Linked DNA regions of Homo sapiens: region 2 is linked to region 1. The links come from fine-mapping of genetic effects on gene expression. Tissue or cell type: whole blood. Region 1 holds a variant in brackets; the other region holds the start of a gene. All regions are shown on one strand. Distances are between the middles of the regions.

The links. PIP is the estimated chance that this variant, and not a neighbour inherited with it, causes the effect.
Region 2: it holds the start of ZGRF1, and the variant in region 1 is fine-mapped to the expression of ZGRF1 in whole blood (TOPMed, PIP above 0.99).

Annotation. Positions count from the first base shown.
Region 1 is chr4:112,557,723-112,565,828 of GRCh38, reverse strand. ZGRF1 (zinc finger GRF-type containing 1) reads left to right here. Exons shown (of 28, transcript NM_018392.5): 17 at 2,555-2,698; 18 at 3,344-3,458; 19 at 4,834-5,096; 20 at 7,520-7,679. It also overlaps the pseudogene H3P14. Among named protein-coding and RNA genes, the nearest start is that of NEUROG2, 46 kb to the right of the region's middle. The variant T/A (reference allele first, on the strand shown) is at 4,621.
Region 2 is chr4:112,631,898-112,640,003 of GRCh38, reverse strand. ZGRF1 (zinc finger GRF-type containing 1) reads left to right here and starts at 3,095. Exons shown (of 28, transcript NM_018392.5): 1 at 3,095-3,153; 2 at 6,762-6,848; 3 at 7,994-8,074. The coding sequence starts at 6,828. LARP7 (La ribonucleoprotein 7, transcriptional regulator) reads right to left here and starts at 2,861. Exons shown (of 13, transcript NM_016648.4): 1 at 2,765-2,861. RefSeq lists enhancers at 2,309-2,418, 2,459-2,508, 3,079-3,298.

The sequences.
Region 1 (8,106 bases):
TGACTGCCATTCTAACTGGTGTGAGATGGTATCTCATTGTGGTTTTGATTTGCATTTCTCTGATGGCCAGTGATGGTGAGCATTTTTTCATGTGTTTTTTGGCTGCATAAATGTCTTCTTTTGAGAAGCATCTGTTCATGTCCTTCGCCCACTTTTTGATGGGGTTGTTTGTTTTTTTCTTATAAATTTGTTGGAGTTCATCGTAGATTCTGGATATTAGCCCTTTGTCAGATGAGTAGGTTGTGAAAATTTTCTCCCATTTTGTAGGTTGCCTGTTCACTCTGATGGTAGTTTCTTTTGCTGTGCAGAAGCTCTTTTTTTGACCCCATGGAAAAAAAATACCTAACGTTCAGAACTACCAATAACAGGAAGAAGAGAATTTTTTTTTTTTTTTTTTTGAGAATGAAATGTTTCCCATCATAGTGGATTCTAAAGCACATTCTCAACGTATGTGGCATGCTAGCTGGATGTCTTTTGGCATAATTGTTACACGTTTGGCATGGATAGCACACAGGTTGGTGTCTTCAAAAAGGCCAACCAGATAGGCCTCACTTGCCTCCTGCAAAGCACCGATAGCTGCGCTCTGGAAGTGCAGATCTGTTTTAAAGTCCTGAGCAATTTCTCGCACCAGACGCTGGAAGGGAAGTTAGCGAATCAGAAGTTCAGTGGACTTCTGATAACATCTAATTTCACGGAGCGCCACAGTACCAGGCCTGTAACGATGAGGTTTCTTCACCCCTCCAGTAGAGGGCACACTCTTGCGAGCGGCTTTTGTAGCCAGTTGCTTCCTGGGTGGTTTACCACCGGTTGATTTGTGGGCAGTCTGCCTTGTACGAGCCATGGTACAGAGACCTCCTTACTTACCTCATTTCTCCTTCGGCTGGAGCTTGGTCAGCGACAGGCGGCGCTGGCGTTGGAGAGCGACGGCGGCGCGGTGGCGGCTGCGAACACAATTCAGTAAAAAGAATTTATAATGTGACCTTCGAAGGAAACTTTTGTGCAGGAACATTATGTATGTTTTTATTTTTTAAATGTATATCACATAGAAGACATTCATGAAGTGGTTGGATTTTTAGAAATTAAGCATTTGTGATCATTTTTTAAAAATTAAAAATCTCCAAGCCAGCATTTGGGGGAAAAAAAATTAAACAAGTAATACATAAATATATACAATGAAAAATGAAGGTATAAAGAAATATATACAGTTAAAAGTGAAAGTCTTACTTTAATACCTTTCATTTTCATTCCTTATAGGTTACCGTTGTGAAATGCATATGATTAAATAATTACTAGATATATTCAGTCTTAAGGTTCTCTTCAGTTTATTTTCTTCACTTCAATCTCTCATTCCTATTTGCAGCAGAGAAAATTTAAGATGAATCCAATTTGATAGATTTTGTCCAGTAAAATTCAGATGCATTTGGGTATTGAAATCTTAGTCGCTGCCCAGTTTAGTCTCTCTTTCAGGGCTTCCACACGTTTCTCATTTTTAAAAACCCTGTTCTTCTCTGTGCCTACTTTTAATATCACAAGATTCACATACTAATTACTAAGTAGTTACAAGAGAGGAGGAAGGTCAGCTTTCCTGAAAGAAGCTTGTTAGTGAAAATGGAATAGTATATTACTATTTTGTGATTATTTCTCAGCTTGCTAGAACTGCTAATATCCTTACTGATCTGATCTTTGGCACTATTCCAATTGCTGATGCCCTGGCAGTTGGTTTTCTCAGCCTGAACTGAGTCCAATATTACTTTTTTTTGTAGCTTGTTAAGTGGTTACTGTGGTCTAAATGTGTTCCCTGCCGTCCGTTCCCACTGCCAAATACATACTTTGAAATTTGATTGCCAGTGTATTAAGAGCTGGGGCCTTTGGGCAATGATTAAGTCATGTGGGCGCTGCATAACTTAATCCTGCATGGGATTAGTGGCCTTATAAGAGAGGTTAAAGGGAGTGCCTTGGCCCCTTTGCACCATCTGCAAAGTGAGAATGAGCCTTCACTGGTTATTCACTGGTGCTGTGCTGGCACCTTGATCTTGGGCTTTTTAGCTTCCAGAACTGCTATGAGAAATACATTTCTCATTTAAGATATTAATCATCTTAATAAATTACTCATTTAAGATATTTTGTTATGGCAGCCTGAACGGACTAATAAAATAGTCTTATGGGCTAGCCCATGTCCTGCCTTCTTAGGCCTTCTGTGGGTTTATGCAAAACCTAGGGATTTCCATTGTAGCAAACTCATCTTCCCATGTGATGTCTCTGCCCTCCTTCTTCCTCACCCTGTAATTCTGCCATCTCTTTAGTCTTTTTCTGTGTGATTCAAGTGGTACTGTATTAATTGCAGAATCTGATGCTGGTTCTTTTGTTCAGAGCACTCCCAACCTTTAGGTTGATAGTTGATGAATTATCTTTCCAGAACTTTACTTCTCATCTTGTGTATGTATATGTGTACTATAGATATATGTACACACATATGCAAATATATATAATTTCTAAAAATATAAAACCATACTGTATATGTCTGTGTAATATTTAAAAATGTTTGTCTTTTCAGATGATCTTTGGGTGGTTTCAAAAACCCTAGACTTTGAGCTGGATACTTTTATCGCATGTAGTGCTTTCTTTGGACCATCATCTATCAATGAGATAGAAATACTGCCTTTGAAAGGCTATTTCCCTTCTAATTGGCCCACTAACAGTGAGTATTACTATGCTCATTTTAGTTTATATTTAAAAAGAATGATAGACATAAGATGCACTGTTTGATTAAAGCCAACAAAAAGGACCCAACTCTAGTTTCGACTGTTGTGTACAGTGAGTTCCTGAAAATGTGTATGAAGTTGAATATATAGATATTTCTGTGAGGAAGAATGGTGTGTGGGGGATTGTTTTGTTCTAATTTTCTAATTAGATTATTCTGATTTTCTGTTTTCCATATATTTCTGTGAAGTAATTGAGGAAAAAATGCAAGAAAGTGTTTAAAAATTATACAAATACTACTCTGTGGCACAAGTGATATGTTGATTAAAGGAAACTGCTGGCTGTGAAGTTGTGCTACTAGGTACTAACTCAAAACAGGTGTTCTTGTTCATTTGCTGATATATGGAAGTCCAAATATGATTTAAATTATGCAGTTTATGCATACCCATTATAAAATGAATGAGCAGATAGCATAGTAATTTAATGAATATAAGTTTGGGATCTCTGTGTGTGTTTAAGGGTTTGTTTTATGTCATGTGCTTAATTCAGTAGCTGAACTCTGAGTTATGTGGGCATTTAACACAGAGTTTTTATGGTCCATTTTATTTACATCAAATGTTTATTTTCTGCATCCTCTGTACAGTGGTTGTCCATGCGTTATTGGTTTGTAATGCTAGCACAGAACTGACTACTTTGAAAAACATTCAGGACTACTTTAATCCAGCTACTCTACCTCTAACACAGTACCTGTTAACAACGTAAGTCATTTTTTACCTTTGAGTCATTGGTATTAAAAAATGGTAATCAGAAGTAAATATGAAAATTCAATAAAAGTACAGTATATAAATGTTGCCAATAAAATTGTAATTATTTTTCAGACTATGACATTATTCTCTGTCAGTGGTTAAAAAGAGAAAAGGGGCTGGGTGCAGTGGCTCATGCCTGTAATCCCAGCACTTTGGGAGGCCGAGGTGGGCAGATCACCAGAGGTCGGGAGTTCGAGACCAGCCTGACCAACATGGAGAAACCCTGTCTCTACTAAAAATACAAAATTAGCTGGGCATACTGGCGCATGCCTGTAATCACAGCTATTCGGGAGGCTGAGGCAGGAGAATTGCTTGAACCTGGGAGGCGGAGGTTGCGGTGAGCCGGGTGCCATTGCACCCCAGCCTGGGCAACAAGTGAAACTCTATCTCAAAAAAAAAAAAAAAAAAAAAGAGAAAAGGAATTATGCATTATTTTTCATCTGTTTATTAAGGTTTGAGCTAATAAATGTTACTGTACATTTTCACTTCATCAAGAGATAATTTAAGGATCATTTCAGTATTGATTTTATTTTTTATTATCTGTATTTTTATATTACAAATTATTTAACATTTAAAGGAATCATTTTACAGCTGGAATCCAGTGTGTATATTGCTACTGATTTTATTCTCGATATAGCCATATCTCATTTTGAATTTCTCAAGCACCATGTCCCTTTTTAAAAAATTGGAAGTGATATTATATTAAATGCATTAAAATTGATAGGAAAATCCAGTTTTCAATTTGGAATATTATTATCTACCTGTGATGTTTTATTTTTCTCACTACAATGAAGTCCTAGGTAAAAAAATAAATATCCTTTGATTTCATTATGTTATTTATCCAATTTGAAATGAATTTTCATGGAAATAGAAATAAGACCAATTCATGTGATGTAGTTTTACCTGAAATGAGGGCTAGATTAATTATCTAAGTTAGGTTTGTATAATAGAGCATGGGTTTTAAAGTCAGTCCGCCACTTATTTGTGGTGTGGTATTGGGGGAAAAAATTCAATATTCTTGTATCTGTACTTGGGATAATTAACTAACTATTTCCTAGTGTTGTTGTGAAGATTTCATCAAGTAATATGTAAAATGCTCAACAAAGTGTCAGCA[T/A]GTAGTAAGTATTCAACAAACGTCAGTTCTCTTCTACCCTCCTCGATATTGGAGTATGTATCCATTTACAGTATATATCCACTTACTGTTTATTTCCATAAAAAACTGTTCTCTGTAATGCTTACAAAGTGATGGCTAAGTTATGAATTATTCTACTCATCTTTTTCAAATGCCCCTTTTTTTAAAATTGTTTATTTGCTTCATTTTTATTAGGTCTTCGCCAACTATAGTTAGTAACAAAAGAGTCAGTAAGAGAAAATTTATCCCACCAGCCTTCACAAATGTCAGTACAAAATTTGAACTACTCAGCCTAGGAGCAACATTGAAGTTAGCTAGTGAGTTGATTCAGGTACACAAGTTAAACAAGGATCAAGCTACAGCTCTAATTCAAATAGCTCAAATGATGGCATCACATGAAAGCATTGAAGAAGTGAAGGAACTGCAAACTCATACCTTCCCTATCACAATCATACATGGTAAGAAGCAAGAAAGAAAATAATTGTAATTGTTTTCTATTTGTAAGCTTTTGTAACTCAGTCTGCTCCTTTATAATTTCCTAGTCAAATGAGGTTCAAGAATAACTCTAAGTAGACTTTTTAAACCTGTACCCACTTTGGTAAACTGTTAGATGAGAACAGAACTGACTACCCTAAAAGGGAGACTTATTAGCATATCTGATGAATGAGTAGCATTATAAACTTATGGTCAAAGTATCCAGATTGATCTAGATGTTTACATGTTGCTCTCCTATAGTAAACTTAACTTGATCAGCAAAACCTTTTATTTATTCCTAGTCAGCTCACTCTTCTATCCTTTATATCAGTGATTACAAACCTTAATTCTTCTCATAACCTCATTCTTGTCCTTTCTCTTGATCTTGCCTCTAAAAGAGGAAATGGAGGTCATAACAGAAACTGCTTTCAATATCCTGCCTTCCTTCTCCAATTTACCTAATTTTGGAGCTATTCTTACCGCTTGGTTCTGTCACAGTGAAGGCGATTTACTTCCTCCTGCTTACAGTAAATAGTTCTATCTGGACTCTGTTGCCTCTGTAGCACATTTTCTCTCATAGACCTCCACCCCAAAGCTAATCCTACTTTTCTGTCCTATTTTGAGGAATTATGTCATATCCACCCTGTTGACCAAATCAAATCTGAGAGTGATCGTAGATTTTTCTTTCTCTCAAGATTAAGTGACTCTCTCTTAATCCTCCTCATATTCTCTCACTATTCATCTCCCGCCATCAGATTAGTCACTGAGATGTGTTCCTTCTAGCTTCTATCCATCTTTCATATTGAGTGTCTCTTCTCCAGTTTACTTGTATCCCCTCAATCCAAGCCTTCATCATACCTCCATATAGCCTAGTGGGTAAGAGTGTGGGGTCTAGAGTTAGAATCCTGAATTTACGTTCTGACTGTATCATTTGTTAGCTGTATGATTTTGGGCAGGTTATATATCTCTTAATCTTTAATTTCCTACTCTGCAAAATGGAGATCATAATAGCATTCACCTCATAGGGTTGGAGGATTAAATGAGTTAACATACATAAAGGGCTTAGAACAGTGCTTGGCACATGGGAGGTGCTTAGTAAAGTTAACATTTATTGTTGTAATTATCTCACACAACTTTCTAATTGATCTACCACTAGTTTTGCCTTACTTCATATTTTCATTCAAGTTGTTTTTTAAAAACACAATCTGATTAAGTCAAACCCATTGCTTGGCCTCACACCTGTAATCCCAGCACTTTGGGAGGTCAGGGAGGGTAGCTCGCTTAAGCTCAGGAGTTCAAGGTCAGCCTGGGCAACATGGCAAAATGCTGTCTCTACAAAAAAATTTAAAAATTAGCTGGACATGGAGGCATGCACCTGTAGTCCCAGCTACTTTGGAGGTTGTGGTGGGAGGATGGCTTGAGCCTGGGAGGCAGAGGTTGCAGTGAGTCACGATTGCGCCACTGCACTCCAGCCTGGGCAACAGAGCCAGACCCTGTCTCAAAACAAAACAAAACAAAAAAAAACAACCATTGCTTGAAATCTTTAGATGACATCTGCTGGCCTTTAAGATAAAATTCAAACTTTGTTTAGCTATAGCAAACAGAGCTTTTGTGATTTACCCCTGTGCCTACCTTATCAGCCTCATCTCTTGCCTATTTGGTAGAGGTTATATAGAAAAGTTATTTTAACAGCGACATGCTTTGTCATGGCTTTGCCTGGAATGGCCCTATCTCTAAGCAGTCTGGACATCTTATTCTGGAAGTCTTAGTTCTACTTCTTAATTTTAGGAAGTACTCCCACCTCCATCAAAACAGAGATAGATTTTCTTCCTTCTCTGATCCAAGATAATATTACTTACCATCTTATTTCTAATTATTCCTTGTTTATCATTTTAAGTAGGCGCTGGTCTCATTAAAAGTGGAAGTATTTTGGTTATCTATTTATCCCCTGTGCTTTGCACATAGTGAACACTCAATGTATTTTGAAGACATTAATTAATTAAATGGAGGAGGGAGAGATGGATGAAATATTTGTTATACCTATAGAAATTTATGTTTGACCAGGCACAGTGGCTCACGCCTGTAATTCCAGCACTTTGGGAGGCCAAGGCAGGTGGATCACTTGAGTTCAGGAGTTTGAGACCAGCCTGCCAATATGGTGGCTCTACTAAAAATACAAAAATTAGCCAGGTGTGGTGGTGCACGCCGGTAATCCCAGCTACTTGGGAGGCTGAGACAGGAGAATCACTTGAACCTGGGAGGTGGAGGTTACAGTGAGCTGAGATTGTGTCACTGCACTCCAGCCTGGGTGACAGAGTGAGTGAGACTCTGTCTCAAGAAAAAGAAAAGAAAAAAGAAATTTATTTATTTTATGCTTTTTATTTTTTTCTTCTTTTAAAATAATTAGGTGTGTTTGGAGCAGGAAAGAGTTACTTGCTGGCAGTGGTGATTTTGTTCTTTGTACAGCTGTTTGAAAAGAGTGAAGCTCCCACCATTGGAAATGCAAGGCCGTGGAAACTTCTGATTTCTTCTTCTACTAATGTGGCTGTTGACAGAGTACTTCTTGGGTAGGCATGACAAGTGCATTTAAGTAGCTAATGTTTTGGGATATTGTTGAGAGAGGCAACCCACTATGGGCCCTGAGTGTCCATGTACTCTTGCTGGTTATGCCAAGAATGCAAGACCTTTGTCTCTGACCCAGAAGCCAGCATCTATGAAACAGTAATGGGCTAATTAGCTTGTAAGTAGGATAAAATCAAAACCAGAACTGGAAATTTTGGCACAGTGATACTCATGCAAAAATTCAAGTTCAGCCAAGAACATGTAGGGCTAGAGAGGTATTGTTGGGGGAGGCAGTCTGCCAGCGGCCCTGAGCATCCCTGCTGGGATGCTAAGGATGCAAGTCCCTGACCATTCTTACCCAACACATTTCTCACAGTTTGTTTGCAATAAGCAGCTTTGACTGATGAAGTAATGTCTCCCTCCAGGACAAAG
Region 2 (8,106 bases), 74 kb before region 1:
TCGTACCACTGCACTCCAGTCTGGGAGACAGATTCAGTCTCCATCTCAAAAACGAACAAACACAAACGTAGGCTATAATTATCAATTATTCTATAATTGATAATTATAATTCTATAATTGATAATCTATAATTATAAATTATTGATAATTATCCAATTATCAATAATTCTATCCAATTATTCTATCCAATCTCTTGTTAAATCCTATCAGTTTGACTTTTGAAATGGCTCTCATCTCCATCCAGTGTTTTCTACAACTACTGCTACAACTGTCACTAGAATATGCCAATAGTTTATAAACTGTTCTGTAAGTCACCCATTCTCAACAGGAGCCTATGTATAACCCATCTAAAACACAGACCTGGTTTTGTGATGCTTCTGTCAAAACTTGCAACATTAGAAATTCCTTAGCACCTTCCCGTAACATAATATGCAGTTTATGAAAACACTGTTTTAAAAAAAAAAAGTAACACTTGGCCAGGCGCGGTGGCTCACGCTTGTAATCCCAGCACTTTGGGAGGCCAAGGCGGGCGGATCACGAGGTCAGGAGATGGAGACCATCCTGGCTAACAAGGTGAGACCACGTCTCTACTAAAAATACAAAAAAAGAAAAAAGAAAAGAAAAAAATTAGCCGGGCATGGTGGCAGGCGCCTGTAGTCTCAGCTACTTGGGAGGCTGAGGCAGGAGAAAGGTGTGAATCCGGGAGGCGGAGCTTGCAGCGAGCCGAGATCGTGCCACTGCACTCCAACCTGGGCGGCAGGGCAAGACTCCGTCTCAAAAAAAAAAAAAAAAAAAGTAACATTTAACTGGCTTTAAATGAAGAATAAAAGTTATTGGGTAACAATACCAGTAACTTTATATACACTTTTGTAAATCCTCACAATCCCACTAGGTAGCAGTTTCTTCCATCTTAACACAAAAACTCAAAAAGGTTTAAGTGACTTGGCCAAAGCTAGCTAAGTAAGTTGTCCCAGGTATGTTTGATCCCACATTGTCTACCTTTTGGTAGAATTTCCCGCAATTTATCACCACGGACTCTATGTTCTGACTCAGGAATTCTTAATCTGAAGTCCATGCAACTTTGGCTGGACAAGAATTCTAGTGGGCTCCATTAAATTGTAAATGATACATTTTAAAGATAAGGTAAAATCAAGACTCTTGTACAAATATAAAATGAATACACGGTAAAGATTTAAGCACAGTCATGGGTTGCTTAACGACAAGGACACATTCTGAGAAATGCACAGTCAGGTGAGTAAGTACATCATTGAGTATGTAGTTATTCTATGATGTATTCACACAAACCTAGGTACTATTGCCTATTACTCACCTATAATCTTATGGGACCACTGTCATACATGCGGTCTGTCGGTATGTGGTGCTTGACTGTAAATAAGGGAACCAGTTAAGTGCTAAAAACCAGTTCAAAGGAGAATTTAAAAAGCAGGTACACAGGCAATCAGGAACGTTGAAATGAATATTAATAAATACTGCTCAGGACAATAATTAATTGCATCTTTACTGGACAAACCTAATTTCCATGTTGCTGTAGCGAGTTACAGGGTTGAAAAATAGTTCAAAGACCACGAAAGACATAGATAACTTGGAAGAGTGAGTCAGACAAGACACCAAGTCATTTGTGTGTGTTTGCTATTTAAAAGTATTTCGTAATTTCTCCTGAGGAAATTATATGAAAAATGTTTGTTTGGAGACGCAGCCTCTCTCAGTGGCCCAGGCTGCAGTGCAGTGGCGCGATCCCGGCTCACTGTAATCTCTGCTTCCCGAGTTCAAGCGATTCTCCCAACCAAGCCTCTTGAGTAGCTGGGACTACAGGTGTGCACCACCACTCCCCGCTAATTTTTGTGTTTTTAGTAGAGACGAGATTTTGCCATATTGGCCAGGCTGGTCTCGAACTCCTGACCTCAAGTGATCCTCCCGCGTCGGCCTCCCAAAGTGCTGGGATTACAGGCGTGAGCCACCGTGCCCAGCCTCGCAAAATGTTTTAATAGGTACATGCACGTTTTCCTGAGAAGCTAATCCATATAATTAAGTTTTCAAAAGAAGTGTGCCACAACAGGTTAAGAATCATTGTTCTGGTCACTGCTTACAACTCAAGTCCCTCAACACGTAGTGGCCTGTGTGTTCTGCTTTGTCTGAATCTTCTCGTCTAAATTTCCTTATTAAATTTTCAAGGCCCAGGTTAAATGGCATCTTACTCTTTGAGATCTTCCACCACCCTGTGTCCTATCATTTGTTTTCTCTTAAGTTTCTTTGCAAACGCACTCTGCACACCATATCTAGCAAGTGTTAGTTCCCTTCCGTAACTGGATTTTTTACTCTTTGAGGACGATGGCAGAGTCCTGCAAAAGAAGATGATAATTTTAGAATATAAATCCTCACGTTCGCTATCTTCTGGCAGCCACAGCTCAGCTCCAATCTGCGAAATACGGCACTCTCTTTATTGACTACTGCTTCTCTCGGCACCCGTACTTCCGCAAGGACGCCGTCATAGGCCGGGCGCGCCCCAAACCTCCCCACGCCGGGCCCCTATGCGCCCTTACTGTCTGAAAACGGGAACTACAAGTGCTGCCGAAGACTTTTGCGCGTGCGCATAGATAACTAGGCCAAGGAACTGATGGGTGTGCAGGACGGGGGGGCGGGGTAAGAAGGACGATAGATGATAGAGTGGACCGCAAGAAAAAGGACGGAGAGTTAATTAGACTTCGCCCAAGCTGTGCGACCCTATAGGCCGCTTGTAACTTACTCCGTTCGACTCCCAAAATACAGGGTCAAGTACTGCGGCCTTCGGACATTTCCGTCTCCGGATCCTGATAGTCTCGGTTACTTTCGCGTCATAGGATGAGCGACAACGTTTTCCGGTCCCAATTGAGAAAGACGGGCCCGGAGGCAGTGCGCGCTCCACCTACGTCACAGGCGAGGTGGTTCCAGGAGGGCTGGGCATCGGAGAGCGCGGCCGGCTGAGAGACTCGAAGCCAAGGAAGAATTTGATTGGCGATTTGAAAGCGGCGGTTTTTGGCTTAGGCGGAGGTGGGCGGGCCAAGTTTTGGGTCCTCATCTGGTGAGGTCCCGCGTTAATGACGTCACGTTGTTTCGCGGGAGAAATTCGAAAGTGGATTTTGTGCAATTTGACAGGTGAGGTGAAGTGTTTCTCGGGATTTCCTAGGAATGACTTGAGCGATTTGGGGCGAAGGGACGAAAGACTCTGCTCCTTAAGAAGAGAACCGGGAAGGATGCTGTTTGGAACCAGGATTGGGGTGGTCGCAGTCACAGCTACTCGGACTGCTTGTAGTAAGTGGTGCCTCTTCACCGTTTTTCCCAGGCCTTGCTTTGCAATTTCGAGTAGGTATGAGGACCAAAGAGGGCTTTGCTGTTTGTATTTAGGACTGAGAAAGGATCAAGTCTCCATTGTCATTTGGTGACAGGATTATGGTTCTTAGAATCTTGGCAAATGAGATGTGGGTTTCCTTTGTTTATTTGGACTGGATGGTTTGTTAACAATGTTGAGTTCATGATTCCAAAACTTTGTTATCCGAACTATTTAGAGGTTCAGGTTTAGGTTCAAAAAATACTCCTTGTTTAAAAAAAAAGGAAAAATATCTAGTATTTAAATGAATAATGGCTCATACTTTACTGAGAACACCGAGTTTTATGTATATATATTGCGTCCGTACATATAGTAGCACAATGTATATGTATGTATATGTGTGTATGTACGTATATCTGTGTGTATGTATGTATGTATATAATTATCACAGAGCATCTGGGGTCTTTAAAAACTTATTTGGAGATTAATCTTTCACCTATTAGAAGTCGGTCAACAGGTGAATTGTCTGGTAGACGTGGACAGATGAACACTTGGAAAAAACTCTTTGCATCTCACTTAAATATATATGATGCTGTTGTCTAAAATAATTTTTTCTGATTAATACTAAGATAAGAAAGGGTGTTGACTTTCAATGAATAAGTATTAGAGCTCTTCTAAATTTTAAAAGATCCAGTTAGCTTTTTTTTTTTAGGTTTTCTCCTATAATCGAATTTAACCATCCTTTAAGAGTTTCAGTCTTCTTAGTTCTTTTTAAACTGTACATTCCAGAAGTAATATCTCAATTTAGGAAAATAATGGAGAATTTATCTTGCAATTGTGAAATAGCATATAAGTTATCCTAAACTAGTAAATACTGGGTTCCTAATCTGTAAATTGTAATAATGCTTATTCTTCAGGATTATGAGACTGATAAATACTGTATGTAAAGTATCTCGTCCAATTCCTGCCTGATACATAGTATGTAATCAATAAATATATATAATTACACACGATAATCATATAATTGTATATTACATAATACAGTAATATAGTTATATATTATATAATTACATAATAATTATAATGTATATAATTAACAATATAATGTATATAATGTTTATAATATAGCACTTTGGGAGGCTGGAAGGATTGCTTGAGCCCAGGAGTTTGAGGCCACAGCGAGCTATGATTGCAACACTGCACTCCAGCCTAGGTGACAGAGTGAGACCCTGTCTCTGTAAAAGAAAAAGAAAAGTTAAAAAGCCAACAGAAACAAAACCTCCAAATAAAGCATTTAACAGTTTCTAGCATATGGTAGCACTGAATAAATGGTAGCTATTAAACAGATCTGATATTAATAATTGCCACATGCCCAGCACTGTGTCTGTACCATGTATTCTCATCTATGTATACAGCATATCTAGCCCAGGAGTGTTTTTCTCGATCTCTCTTTTATCTTCTTGGCATTCTTAGGCATCAGCAATTTATGTACGCCGGAGGGGAGGGAGATAGGATGTGGAAGTTGTATTTCTTTTTTTTTTTTTTTTTTGAGATGGAGTCTCGCTCTGTCGCCCAGGCTGGAGTGCAGTGGCGTGATCTCTGCTCACTGCAACCTCCGCCTCCCGGGTTCAAGCAATTCTCCTGCCTCAGCCTCCTGAGTAGCTGGGACTACAGGCCTGTGCCACCATGCCCAGCTAATTTTTGTATTTTTAGTAGAGACGGGGTTTCACCATGTTGGTCAGGCTGGTCTCGAGCGCCTGACCTCATGATCCACCCGCCATGGCCTCCCAGAGTGCTGGGATTACAGGCGTGAGTCACCACACCCGGCCAGGAGTTATATTTCTGAAAGGCAGTCCTTCTGTAGGTTTGGTTTCTGTCCTGTGACCTGTGTCACGAAGCAAGTATGCATATCTCATTTGCATACCCCTTACCTATTCTTTCTCCAGATCACCTTGATTAGTCAAGGGAAGATGCCAGTCACTTTCTTGCACTTCACCGCCCCCGCCTCGCCCTTTTATTTTTTTTTTTTGAGACAGTTTTGCTCTTGTCGCCCAGGCTGGAGTGCAGTGGCGTGATCTCGGCTCACTGCAGCCTCTGCCTCCTGGGTTCAAGTGATTCTCCTGCCTCAGCCTCCCAAGTAGCTGGGATTATAGGCACGCACCACCACACCTGGCTAATTTTTGTATTTTTAGTAGAGACAGGGGTTTCACCATGTTGGCCAGGCTGGTCTCGAACTCCTGACCTCAGGTGATCCACCTGTCTCGGCCTCCCAAAGTGCTGGGATCACAGGCCTGCAATTCTTGTTTGGGAAGACCTTCACTGGCCTTCCCTTGACTAAGGGTTATTTCAGCTTACAGCTTAGACTTTACTTCCTTGAAGAAGCCTTGTTTGATGATCCACACCAAGCTGGGTGCCCCTGCTGTGCTTATTCCTGCCTTATTTTATTAAAATTACTGTTTATCACCCCGCCATACTGAAATTCCTTCAGATGGAGGATAGAGTTTCCATTTAAATACTTTAGCATAATATCTGGCACAATAGTAAGTACTGAATAAATATATGTAACTTATAAATAATATGTAAGTGGCATATTTTATATGTCTAAAAGAGGAACTGAAATCACAATTACAGCTTTATTGAATCCTTCTAGGTCTTTTAGATCTGTATTCTCAAACTTGAGTGTCCATCAGCATCACTTGGAGGGCTTCTTAAAACACAGACTGCTGGGCCCCCAACCCCAGACTTTCTGACTTAATAGGTCATTTCTTACTAGTTCCCAGATGATACTGTTGGTCCAGGGGTCACATCTTGAGAACCACCTTAGGGGAAAAAAAAGAAAGTATGTTTCTTTGGCATTTCTGTTTACTTCTTCAGGGATCACCATCAGTGATTTTAGATTTCCAAATTTGCCCACAAAAACAGTTTTATCCAATAGCATAACAACTACAGTAACTGTTGCAACAGTGTTGGAAAGATTTTTCCTTGTAGAGGTACTATGTAATTGGTCCTAGATACTGTGGTATATTGATGCTAAGAAGTGAAAGGAAAAATTTAAAACACAAGGGGGCCATCTTGTGGTAACCGTAGCAATTCAGAAAACTTTAAAAATTGAATTTGCGCTATAGGGAACCAAACATGTGGAGGACAAATTCGTGTTTTCTGATACATATTATGCATCTGGAAAAATGCAGACTACAAGTTAATTTATGTATTTTACTTAGTTTTTTCTTTACTTATGAAAAAATGCTTGTTTCACAGCATGGTATCACTTTTACTGTGTCCTCAGTGATAGATAATTACACCTCTGTTTCCCTTGGTAGTTAGGTAATCTTGGAACTCCTTGATTCATGTCTGTGGTTGGGAGTTTATTGAGAAAAATTATATTTGATATTTTTTAAAAATCAGGGTTGAAATTTTATGTCATTTTTAATTTTAGGTGGTATAAATAGTTGAATATTTCCTATTTTCTGGACCCAGCTGGTTTATAACTTCAGAAGAAATAATGGAAAGCCAAGAATTTATTGTAAGTTTTACCATTTTTCACAGTTTGGTGAAATTCCCTTCCTCTGTCTCTTTCTTTTAAAGGCGTTTCACAAACATCTTGCTGTGTTGCCAGATTTAGCAAAAACAAAACAAAAAACAGGCTACTCAGTTAAATTTGAATTTCAAATAAACAATGCATACCTTTTTTAGCATTAGGATCCCAAATATTGCACAGTATTTTATCTGGTAACCCTATCTGTTACCTACTATTCATATTTGTTACACAAAATCATCACTTTTCAGCCTTTTGGCTAAGATCAAGTATTAGACAAAGTCCTTTGTAACATAATCTTTGAAAGTGTGAGACCGGGAAACAATTTCTTTCTCTTGAAGAACTGGCATCCGTCTTCTGTATAGATCAGCAGTTCTCACACTATTTGGTCTCGGGACTCTTTAACACTTAGAAAATTATTGACCCCAAATAACTTGTGTATATAGGGTCTTACGTCTATTGATGTTTTTCATATTAGAAGTTAAAGCAGAAATGTAAAAAGTATTTATGATTTGGCTTAATGGAAGACAACTGGATTCTCATATTTGTTTCTTCTACATTCAGATTGCAATTGAATCTTACAATATTGCATATACATAATCCTGGGAAACTTCATTCTGCACCCCTGAAGGAGTGAGGATGAAAAGACAGCATCATGAAAATAGTTTTGACCTCACAGATACCTGTAAAGGTCTTGGAGACCTCCAGGAGTCTCTGGACCAAACTTTGAGAACTGCACAGATTATTAGTACTGTGTAATCCAGTAATTTTTTTCCCTTCCAATTGATGACTAGGGAGCTCAAATTACTTTCAATGCTCATTTATCTTTTTTGTTTCTTCCTTGGATTTCTCCTCTCCTTTCTTCCTTCTCCTGCCATTTCCTCCCCTATTCCCTCCCTCTCCTTCTCTCTCTCCCTTCCTTCCCTTATTTATTTCATTTAATTAATATTTAATGTTATTGTCATGCTATCTGTGCTTTTGTTTTTAAAATTTAAAAAATTGATATGGGTGTATGTGCCTTTTTTTGATGAAAGGTGCCTTAAATATATTTTGTATGTAGGAAGGATATATAAAATACATAACATTAAATATATATAAATGGAAACCATTTCTTTTGTATTTTTGGAAATAAGGTTCTATATACTCATCAAAAGATGAAGAAGTCAAAAGTGTGGCAAGATGGAATTCTGAAGATCACTCACTTAGGAAACAAAGTGAGTACAAAGCAGTTGACTATAGGGTGCAA